Linked DNA regions of Homo sapiens: region 1 is linked to region 2. A link means that fine-mapping ties the variant in region 2 to the expression of a gene that starts in the linked region. Tissue or cell type: fibroblasts. Region 2 holds a variant in brackets; the other region holds the start of a gene. All regions are shown on one strand. Distances are between the middles of the regions.

Evidence for each region. PIP is the estimated chance that this variant, and not a neighbour inherited with it, causes the effect. A credible set is the group of variants that fine-mapping cannot tell apart.
Region 1: it holds the start of SGCG, and the variant in region 2 is the best candidate, but not a certain one, in a credible set for the expression of SGCG in fibroblasts (GTEx, PIP 0.71).

Annotation. Positions count from the first base shown.
Region 1 is chr13:23,179,062-23,184,061 of GRCh38, reverse strand. SGCG (sarcoglycan gamma) reads right to left here and starts at 3,083. Exons shown (of 8, transcript NM_000231.3): 1 at 2,987-3,083.
Region 2 is chr13:23,365,110-23,371,557 of GRCh38, reverse strand. It overlaps SACS (sacsin molecular chaperone), which reads left to right. Exons shown (of 10, transcript NM_014363.6): 4 at 393-480; 5 at 3,071-3,156; 6 at 6,281-6,392. Among named protein-coding and RNA genes, the nearest start is that of SACS-AS1, 51 kb to the left of the region's middle. The variant C/T (reference allele first, on the strand shown) is at 3,775.

The DNA of each region.
Region 1 (5,000 bases), 190 kb after region 2:
ATGTTGCCAAAATACAAACATTCAAATGCATTCCAGTATGGAGACAACACACTTATATTGTTTCACCAAGATTAACATTTTAGAGTATTTTATGTAGGCTGGGCATGGTGGCTCATGCCTGTAATCCCAGCACTTTGGGAGGCCGAGGCGGGTGGATCACGAGGTCAGCAGATCGAGACCATCCTGACTAACATGGTGAAACTCCGTCTCTACTAAAAATACAAAAATTAGCTGGGCATGGTGGCATATGCCTGTAATCCCAGCTACTAGGGAGGCTGAGGCAGAAGAATCACTTGAACCCGGGAGGTGAGTTTGCAGTGAGCCGAGATCATGCCACTGCACTCCAGCCTGGGCGATAGAGCGAGACTCTGTCTCAAAAAAAAATAAAAATAAAGGGAGAATATTTTATATAAAGTTTTCGTTACAATCAAAAATGTTGAAGAAAAGGAAGATTTTCATGGGAAAGGTAAACAGTCACTTGCCTTTCTTTCCTTCATAGACCTTACCACTAGGGATAGGCAGGCAGCCACCAGGAATGCCAGGAGGGCTATTTGTATCCTGGAATGCACACACCCCTTCTGAGCAGCCATGGCTGCGTGCAGAGAACGTTCTCCACAGAAACAGCAGAAATAGCCTCAGCCTGGAGTCTCCTGCCTGCTTAGGGCTCCTTTCTGGTACGCCTTCTTAGGGGACTGTGAGAAGCAGGTTCAAGTTCCTGACCAGTTACCGTCATTTTCCCGAGGTCTTCCTGACTTCCCCGCAGTGTGGGGTCAGGATAAGAGGGTGCATTGATGGGTGATGCCGATGGAAGCTACTATTTACTAAGAAGTCAGAAACTTTCTAATTGCCTTATATAGACTAAATTTGATACTTGTTAAAATGGTAGCTGCTACAATGCAACTCCTCTCACCTTACAAATGAAGAAACTGAGACATAGAAATTAAGTAATTCACACAAGGTCAAATGGCAGTCTGGCTCCATAGCCTAAACTTTTAATCATAGCCTCTTCATTGATGTTAGACTTTCCAGAGATGTTTCTCAAGTAAAATTAATTGAGCATTTTAAAAACAGAGTTAAAGAAGTCACGAAGGTGAAGCTAGGTTTTAAGGTACTCTTCACTGCCGCCTCCACTGCCCTTAATCCATTCTCCATGTCAACTGCAGTGATCCTTCCAAAGCACCCATGTGACTGGGCTGCTCTCCTTTTCTAGAGGTTCAAAGGTCTCACTGGTGCTTAGGATGAAGCACAAACGCCTTTGGGCACAGCAAGCCCTCCTGTCCCCATTCCTCAGTGGTCCTACCCACCAGTCATACTGAAGTCGAGCAGGCAGTGAGATTTTCACAGGTTCTGAGAAAAGTCTTGAGACCTTTACCATTCACAAATTACTAAATACTCCTGTACCAGTGTTCCCATAAAACTATCTACAGCATAACATATAAAATTAAAAATGAAGCTGGAATCCAAAATGGCCAAAGTAGCAAGTGATGGATCCTGCAATCCTCATGAGAACGTCGTAGAACTATCTGGCCCTGCAGTAGGTCTGGAGAAGAATAAAGCCAGACAGGTGCTATAGAGGCTGAGAGAAGGGGAGGGAGGGAGGGAGAGACAGGAAGGTGTCATGAAGGTCAAGGTGGGTTCTGAAGGAGCAGGAGAGTAGCAGAGTCATCCTCAGGACGCTGTAGTTTCTCCCCTCCCACTGGGAAACCACAGCCCTGGTGCCTCAAGCTGAGAAGACACAAGCGCTGTGATGAGCCACAGATTAGGGAGTGGAGGGAGATCCTCAGGCCCTATAAGTTATGCAAAACTGAACACATTGGGAACCCACTATAATTTACAACTATCATTTAATTTTTAATGCAATTTAATAACAACTTAGTTTAATGACTAGCAAGTACATTTTTTAAAGGACAATATGGAACAATTTCATTTTCCGCATTTTAACTGCAAGCTTAGCTGATATCTTTTGGACACCTGAATTTGTTAGTCTTTGGAATGCTATATCTAACTACATTGAAATGCTACTTTTCATTTGTCTTTGAAAGACAATCTGAAATGAATCCTAGAACCTATAAAACGAACCCCAACTTGTAGCATTACTTTTTAAATTCCACAAAGGTGCCTTTTTGTACCTACAAAATGTTTGCAAGAAAATAAGCAAAAAACAAACGGTGTATTCCGTAGTTCGTTTTTGTACTGGTCTGCTGGCAAATCTTTCAGTCAGCTGAGTTATATTTTTCCGTATTATTTTTTTCTAATCCTTCCTTTAAAAAAATTGTGTTTGCTAGTTGTCATGTATTAATTTAGAAAACGCAAAGAAAGAACTCATAACTTCAGTAAGCTGAAGCATTAGCACATGTGTACTTTTACCCCACTTATGTTTATTTTTTCATACATATTTTGAGCAGTATTTTATATTTTCCAGATTTAGGGAAAGAAACATTCTTCCCTTTTCACTCCAAAAATAGTGAAGGAGTCAGGTTGCTATTTTGCTCTTGTTTTGTTTATTTCCAACTTATAAAACCACTGGACTTTTGTTGTCATTCATTTTAGTTTATTTCTTAGTGTCTATAACAAAACTATCAAGAAAATCTAAAGCAAATGTAATTCTACCACTAAAGTTTAAGAGCAGAATTAGAAGTAGGTGATCTTAAAGATAATACTTTGTTTAAATTAACTACAGGATCCAATTCAATGCCCAATAATACAGAAATGCTACCTTTGGCATTCTACAAATTAAAAATGTTAGAAATATAGGATTATGCTAAAAATATGTAGCATATTTGTAGTCAGAATAACTTAGTTGAAATGAGAATTTCATTGATACTTGATATGTCATTATGTTGTGATACACCAATTTATTCAACATTATTTTAAATTTATTATTATGCCACCAAAGAAGAAAGAATATTAAGAAACCTCTTAAGCGTTTGGTTTTTAGGTAGTACTTTGTACTGATATAAAATCTAAGTTAAAACTGAGCACTTACCTTAGATATTAAGAAAAGCACACTGGCGAATGAACTACAGCTGGCCCGAGCTCTACCACAGACAGAATGTTTCAAACTTTTCTATGACTTACAGAATGAGAGCAAAGGATGAAGCTTCAGCAACTGTCCCTGGAGAAAGGGCTCTCACGAGTTTCGCCCTGTCTCATGTTTCATCCCCTCACATTAGCAACAGACGTGTCTAATTTTACTCAGTGACATAAACAGTTCATACCACACTTAAAATTTTTTGGGCACCAATTCCAGGACACAGCTCTTCGCATGCCAAAAACAAACCAAAACAAACAAACAAACAAGAAACCAAACTCTTCTTCTTACAAAACCAACTTTCCAACATTTAAACCCTAAAGCATGATAGTTTAATGTAATTATAACTTTCTTAAAAAAACTTTACCTCAAACAAACAGCAGAAAACTTCTAAGACTGGTTTCCATTAGAAACTAATGTTGATAAAATTTTACGAAAAATCTCTTCAAATTAACATGCAAGTTAGAACTTGTGACTATTACCTATATACTAGTCTCATCCAAATGAACGGCATATTACCATGTAACAGTGACTCTTTAAAAATCACTTTCCCTAAGCCTCTTTAAGTGAAAAACTTTTAACATCTGAGGAGAAAATCTTAAACAAAGATCACCATAATAGAAGGTAAACAAACTCTGCATGTTAAAATTATGACAGTTCTTTTCTAGTAAACTAACATTTCTATTGTGTTTAACAAATTATGTGAATGTAACAAATGTGACCTTAAATTGTCTTTATGTTTATTTAAGAGTAATTAGGTCATTCCATTTTATAAGGTGTAAAGACAACAGAATAAATATCGAACTTCTGAATAATTTTAATATTTTATTTTGCATTATTTTTATGTGACCTGGTTTGCAGCAGGATTAAAACTTACTAAATTATATACTTCATATTTGCATTTTAGTACTAAACCTTGAATATAAGAAGCAGTGCCTTAGTATACATGCACACAGAGATGGGAACAATCAGATACTGGGGCCTGCTTGAGGAAGGAGGGAGGGAGAAAGGTGGGGTTCGGAAAACTGTCTATCGGGTACTGGGCTTACTACCTGGGCGATGAAATTATTTGTACATCAAATCCTGGTGATATGCAATTTATCTGTGTAACAAACCTGCACATGTACCCCTCGAACCTGAAATAAAAAATGAAGAAAAAAAGGAGCAATGCAATAACAATGCATATGCTTCATTCTCATTTTATTTTCTTCTCAGGAGACTTTTCTCTTCATTCTGCTTATTTATACTCTACCATAATTTCTTTTGAAATTTGATACTTCTATCATACCAGCAGCTGCAGGCCTTAAATTACAAGCTGATACAGCTTCAAATAATCTTACATTTGTAAGACATTTTAAAACCTTTCATGAATTCTCTGCACATTAGTACTTCTACTTTGGGAATTCAGCTAGACATAAAATTATAGGACAACTATCAATTTTAAACAAAAATAATATATTAAACAATAATGATATGAAATGTATTTTTGTATGAGTGTATGTCTGAAAAGTCAAAGTCTGAAACTGCTAACTCAATATTCTGATTGAAATGTCATGCATGTAAAGGTTACAATTGAGATACCTCTTCATCAATCGTAAATTGGTTTTGTTGCAATGAACTTTTCAGTGTTTTGGGAACTGCTTTGTAAAAATGTTAGTCAGGTGATGTGTTTGATCCCCACTCATATTTACAGATTCATTTAATACTATCCACACCTATGTTTAGTAGGGCAGAAGAATCACATAAAGAAGCCTTTGATTTTATCAGTTAGTTGAAATTATTAAAGCAAGACCTTCAGTTTGTAATGTAGGCAGCTTAAGTTTGTAACTCACACACACACATTTTGAAATGTTCTCAAAGGAATCATAATACTTTAAAGCTCCAAGAGACCTTAAAGAAATCTAGTCTAACAGTCATTTAGGTGTAAAATAATTTGTTCCAGATTACAAAGCTAGTAAGCCTATGGGTA
Region 2 (6,448 bases):
AAAAACAATTTTTTTTGGTCCTCTAATATGTGTTGAGGTCTCATGGAGCTCTGTTATGAGCAATACACTTTGGAAATGTTGATCAGAAGAATGATTTTGTTTATGTTAATGATCCCGATTCATCATTTAAAAATTTAAATTATGTTAATGGAGAAATATATATATTTTTATCTATTTGTAATTAACGAAAAATCTTTTAGTCCCTTAAATTTTTAAATAAAGTTTTTGACTAAATCTGTGTTCCGTGGAATATTCACTTCTCCAGACAACTTCCTTCATGATAAGAAGACTTAACAAGCATTACTTAAGTGAAAAAATTTGAGATAATGTCTTGAATTTACAGTATTAGAGACTGTATTGCTTTTCATACATTTTCTTTTGCTTTTTTTCAGTTATCTGACTGGATCAAGATTGGAGATCTGACTTCCAAAAATTGTCATCTTTTTGTAAACCTTCAATCAAAAGGCTTAAAAGGGGGAGGTATAATATTGACTTTACCAGAAGTATATACCATGTTGGGTTGCACAAAGATTGAGTTTTTTTGTTTGTTTGTTTGGTTGGTTTTTGAAACTGAGTCTCGCCCTATCGCCCAGGCTGGAGTGCAGTGGCACAATCTCAGCTCACCACAACCTCTGCCTCCTGGGTTCAAGTGATTCTCGTGTCTCAGCCTCTGTTCAAGTGATTCTCGTGCCTCAGCCTCCCAAGTAGCTGGGAAAACAGGTGCCTGCCATCACGCCCAGCTAATTTTTACATTTTTAGTATAGACAGGGTTTTACCATGTTGGCCAGGCTGGTCTTGAACTCCTGACCTCAAGTGATCCACCGTCTTTGGCCTCCCAAAGTGTTCGGATTACAGGCGTGAGCCACCGCTCCCAGCCGAGATTGAGTTTTAACAAAGAAGCAGGGAGTAGAATGGTGGTTGCCAGAGGGTGGGGGCAGGGAGAAATGGGGTGTCATTGGCCAAAGGTACAAAGTTTGCTATATGAATAAAGAAGATCTGGAGATCTTCTATACAGTACAGGGCCCATGAATAACAATACTGTGTTGTATTCTTAAAAACTTACTAAGTGGGTAGGGTAGATCTGATATTAATTACTCTTACCATAAAAGTTTAATAAAGCACAACAGAAGAGATGGGAGGAAACTTTTGGAGATGATGGATAAGTTTATGGCACTGACAATGATAGTTTGATGGTTTCATGGTACGTACTTATCTCCAAATGCATCAAGTTGCAAAATAAATATCTGCAGTGCTTTGTATTTGAGTTGTACTCAATAAAGCTGTTTTAAAGATTATGTTTTAAAAATGAAATGAAATCATATCCCATTGGGATAGAGTGAGGGGACATCAGGGCCAGAGGAAGACAAGCGTGGATGGAGCTAGTTATAAGAATGAGTGGGGGCCGGGTGTGGTGGCCCACACTTGTAATCCCAGCACTTTGGGAGGCCAAGGCAGGCGAATCACGAGGTCAGGAGATCAAGACCATCCTGGCTAACACAGTGAAACCCTGTCTCTACTAAAAATAGAAAAAATTAGCCAGGTGTAGTGGCACGCACCTGTACTCCCAGCCACTTGGGAAGCTGAGGCAGAAGAATCGCTTGAACCTGGAAGGCAGAGGTTGCAGTGAGCTGAGATCGCTCCATTGCACTCCAGCCCAGGAGACAGTGCAAGACTCCGTCTCAAAAAAAAAAAAAAAGAAGTGTGAGTGGGATAGGCTGGGCATGGTGGCTCACGCCTGTAATCTCAGCACTTTGGGAGGCTGTGGAGGGCGGATCACAAGCTCAGGAGATCCAGACCATCCTGGCTAACACGGTAAAACCCCATCTCTACTAAAAAATACAAAAAATTAGCTGGGTATGGTGGCGGGCACCTGTAGTCCCAGCTACTCAGGAGGCTGAGGCAGGGGAATGGCGTGAACCTGGGAGAAGGAGCTTGCAGTGAGCTGAGATTGCGCCACTGCACTCCAGCCTGAGCAATAGAAGGAGAGTCCGTCTGAAAAAAAAAAAAAAGAATGGGTGGGATAGAAGTCTGTGGAAACAGAGTCTTGTTTGAGCTTGGTCTCAGTATGTGGTTGTACCAAAATGACGCAAATAAATTTATAGTGACAATTTTGCTTTTTTAAGCAGAGGTTTCTTTATACTGATAAACAGATTTTTGAAATGCTGTGTATTTGAGGCATTACTTCCCATTTTCTTGTTCTTCCTACAGCCCTGTCACTTGTCTGAAGGTGACCTGGTCAGTTGGTCTAAGAATATCTAGTTTAGGCAAGGCTTGAAGGTACTTGAAGTGGACAGCCATTGAGACAGTGACTGCTGAATTTCAGAACAATCAGAACACTGGTTGAATTTGAGAATATTAAGAATGTGATAATAGGCACCTCTGTCTCTGGCTTGTTATTTAATGGCAAAGCAGCCACAAAATAACATCATTTATTTTATTTGCTTTGGAAAATATCAACACTCCTCCCCACTGCACCATGCTTCTTGTTTTTGAATTAATAGTTATTATATTTTTGAACATTTTTTGAGACTTTATTTGTAGTTCAGTTAAAAATCTTGAGGCCAGGCATGGTGGCTCACGCCTGGAATCCCAGCACTTTGGGAGGCCAAGGTGGGCGGATCACGAGGTCAGGAGATCAAGACCATCCTGGCTAACATGGTGAAACCCCATCTCTACTAAAAATACAAAAAAATTAGCTGGGCATGGTGGTGGGCACCTGTAGTCCCAGCTATTCGGGAGGCTGAGGCAGGAGAATGGCATGAACCCAGGAGGTGGAGCTTGCAGTGAGGGGAGATCACACGACTGCACTTCAGCTTGGGCGACAGAGCGAGACTCTGTCTCAAAAAACAAAACAAAACAAAACAAAACAACTTGAGATTTGATACAATTGAATCTGCTTTACTTTCTGCTGAATTGCTTCGTCAGGTAGATTTCTGTACCAGGGTGCTGCAGTGAGATATATGCAACCATAACTTGTATAGTTATATGATGTCTCAGATTCAAGTCACACATTGGTGACAATTCATGGGATTTTTTTTCTAACTCACTTAAAATGTGCTCCGTATTTTAGGTCGATTTGGTCAGACAACGCCACCACTTGTTGATTTTCTCAAGGACATTTTGAGAAGATATCCAGAAGGAGGACAGATTCTTAAGGTGGGGCACATGTCGTGTTCATGTGTTATTTACTTTGATAAAAATGAGATGAAGTAAATTTACTTGAAAGTCCTATTAGTGTTTAAATTTTTAAAATGTTGTCTAGATTCAAATAGCTGTATTATACCTCTGTGGCTGCAGTGTATAGCAGTGTATAGCTCCATTTGAGAATGGAATTGATATAAATATGTGAGGTTTTCTGGGGCAAAGAAATGCGCTAAGCTACTGGGTGCTGTAATCAGCAGTGTCGCTCCGGGAATGTTCTCTGTAGATCATTGTGCAGGGCTTTACACGTCAACCAACCAACCAACCAACCAACCAACCAGCCAGCCAGCCAACCGGCCAGCCAAATACATTCTACGATTAGAGGCTTGAATGCATGCCCATTGGACTCCTGATTTTAGAGGTTTGCTATTTTGGGAGGGTTTATTTAATAGGATAATTATTTTATTTACTTATTTCTTTTTGTAATATGTTTTTTTAGTTTGATTATACTCTTTAAAAAACAGGCTGGGCGCAGTGGCTCATGCCTGTAATCCCAGCACTTTGGGAGGCTGAGGCGGGTGGATCACCTCAAGTCAGGAGTTCGAGACCAGCCTGGCCAACTTGGCGAAACCC[C/T]GTCTCTATTAAAAGTACAAAAATTAGCCAGGCATGGTGGTGGCTGCCTGTAATCCTAGCTACTCAGGAGGCTGAGGCAGGAGAATCGCTTGAACCCGGAGGCAGAGATTGCAGTGAGCCGAGATTGCGCCACTGCACTCCAGCCTGGGCAGCAGGAGCCACACTCCGTCTCAAAAAACAAACAAACAATAAAACAACAAAAAAAGAAAAACCAATAATCATCAAAGAAAGCAATAATGGGAGATACTGCAAAAATTAGATTTTGTGTTTAATAAGAAACTTCCTTAATTGTCAAAGTAGACCAGTTGTTATGCATTTTCCTTCCCATTAGCTTGTTTAGTGTTTATTACCTTCAGTATCTTGGCCCTGGTTATATTTTCTAGTTTAGATTGTAAACTGTGAGGGAATCAGGACTAGGTCTCTTTAATTTAAGAGAGTCATGCTCAGGTAGGCACTCACTGAGGACTGTTGTGTCTTTAGTGATCATGGTGAGACTGGGCTGTTGGAGCAGTCCATCTTTCAGCATAGGCACCAGTGGTTCACAGAAAGCGAATTCAAAAACAGTTTTTGTATTGACTTATTAGGAAAGTGAGGATGGAAAGAGTATTGCTACGAGGTGGTTTTGGGGTAGAAAGAAGTGAATAGAATACATTTAAAATAAAGGTATAGTGGTAACAGGAGTAGGTTGTCATCTGTTTAGAAGTGAGCGAGTGGGATCCTTGCTGAGAAATGAGAAAGGTCTATGGCAAACAGCTGAGGGCTACGCGCCTTCTGCTTTGCTTATAGATATATTTGTATTGTAGCCAGTTCAATGTAATCTTTGTTCCTTGGATGTTGTGGTAGAATTAGACTGTTTTAGATTTAATAGGAGTCTTAGAAATCACCAAGACCTACACCACCACCTTCTATGGTATTTGTGTTTGCTGAAACAGGTCCAGAGATCTTAGTGGCTTGCCCAAGACCAAATACAAAATGTATTGTTGCTGTTTCCCAGAGTTAGTTTACAAACAATCTCTCAGGATTGCAATTTAGGGGAAAAGCTTCCTATCCTATTTTTTATTCAACTTGAGAATGAGTGGAACCTGGGACTTAGATTTTATCTTTAGTTTTCTGCCTCTCTGCTCCCTAAAGTACACATAAATAATAAATAGATACCTGAATGAAAACAAGGTCGAACATCTAAAGTGCTATCATTTTGTAAGTTAACATTGTTTTTCACTACCTATTTAATTCTTATTTCCATCCTTCATATTATTATAATATCCTAATGTAAATAAGATTGTTAATTTTTAGGGATTCTCTGGGATTGAATGAGGCCTAAAAAATTAAAATCCCATGAGAAATAGTTAGTTACGTAACAAGGAAGAATCACTAGCTGATAATGAGGCTGCAGGAGGCACGACTTAGCTGTTCATGTTTGGGGTGGAACAGCTGGTGGGTACCACACTCCAGCCCTTTGGGATGCACTGGGTGAACTGAGCACAATCTCAGAACTGACTTTTCACTTCTGCTCCCTCAGTCTCCTTGTAGTTATTTTGTTTCATGTAGTCATCGTACCACCTCTCTACTCTGATGTAGGCATCACTGTTGACATTGTTGTAGTATCAGTTAAAGTGCTCTTCAATTTTTGCCCATCTGTACCTCCAATTTAGTGATCCCAAGGCTCTGGGGAAGTAAAAAAGCTCTTTTGATGATCATGGGGTTGGATCTAGGAGCTGATTCTTGATTCAGATTCTGGAGCTCCCTTCAAACTGAACGGAGCCCAGCGTGATTTTAGTAGGTGTGCAGAAGTGATTGGGGTTGTTAGGATTGGAAATTTTGTTGAGGCAAATCTTGCAGTTTGCCCTTTCCTTTCTACATTACGGGGAGCTGGTCACCCTTCCACTCACCCACCATTCACCAAACAAATGGTAGTGCTTTCTTCTTGATGAAAGGAATGAGTCAGTCCTGACCATCTGGAAGCTTTCAGTTTAGTGCAGGACAAAGACATTTTTATATCTCAGGCTCTCAAGAAAGCAGCCAATTGAAGGGTATATATAGATTGCTACTATTTGGTTTTATTGTTTTTCTGTGGAAAGGTAAGTTTAGTAAGCAAAGGATAAAAAAGGTCTATTTTTGGCAATCACTCAAGCTTAAGTTACCTGCCACACAGGACGATATGTGCAGCTTTTGGAAATAGAATAATTTCCTTTGAACAAAAGCTTTGGGTAGATTGTAAATATGAGACAGTTATAAATAGGGCCCAGGATTAATTTGCTAAGTGATAGCAAATTAAAAGACAAAATTTAAGTGCAAATAATTGGAGAAGGACTTTTCAACCATACTGTCACATCTATGTAACAATTACTTTCAGTAGTAGCCTCACCAGATCTTAAAGGTAATGTTGCAAATAGTGGGTTTCCTTTATTTAAGTATATTAACTTCTTAAATATTATAGATAAATACAAAGATGAGCAGTAGATTACTGTGTTATTAATTACTATTTTTTGGTATATTTTTTGGTTAGGAATTAATTCAGAATGCAGAAGATGCTGGGGCGACAGAAGTTAAATTTTTATATGATGAAACTCAATACGGAACAGAGACTCTTTGGTCAAAAGATATGGCGCCATATCAGGGTAAGAATCAATAATTAGGAACAAATTTTATTGTATGCACTAACAGGCAGTTTTTA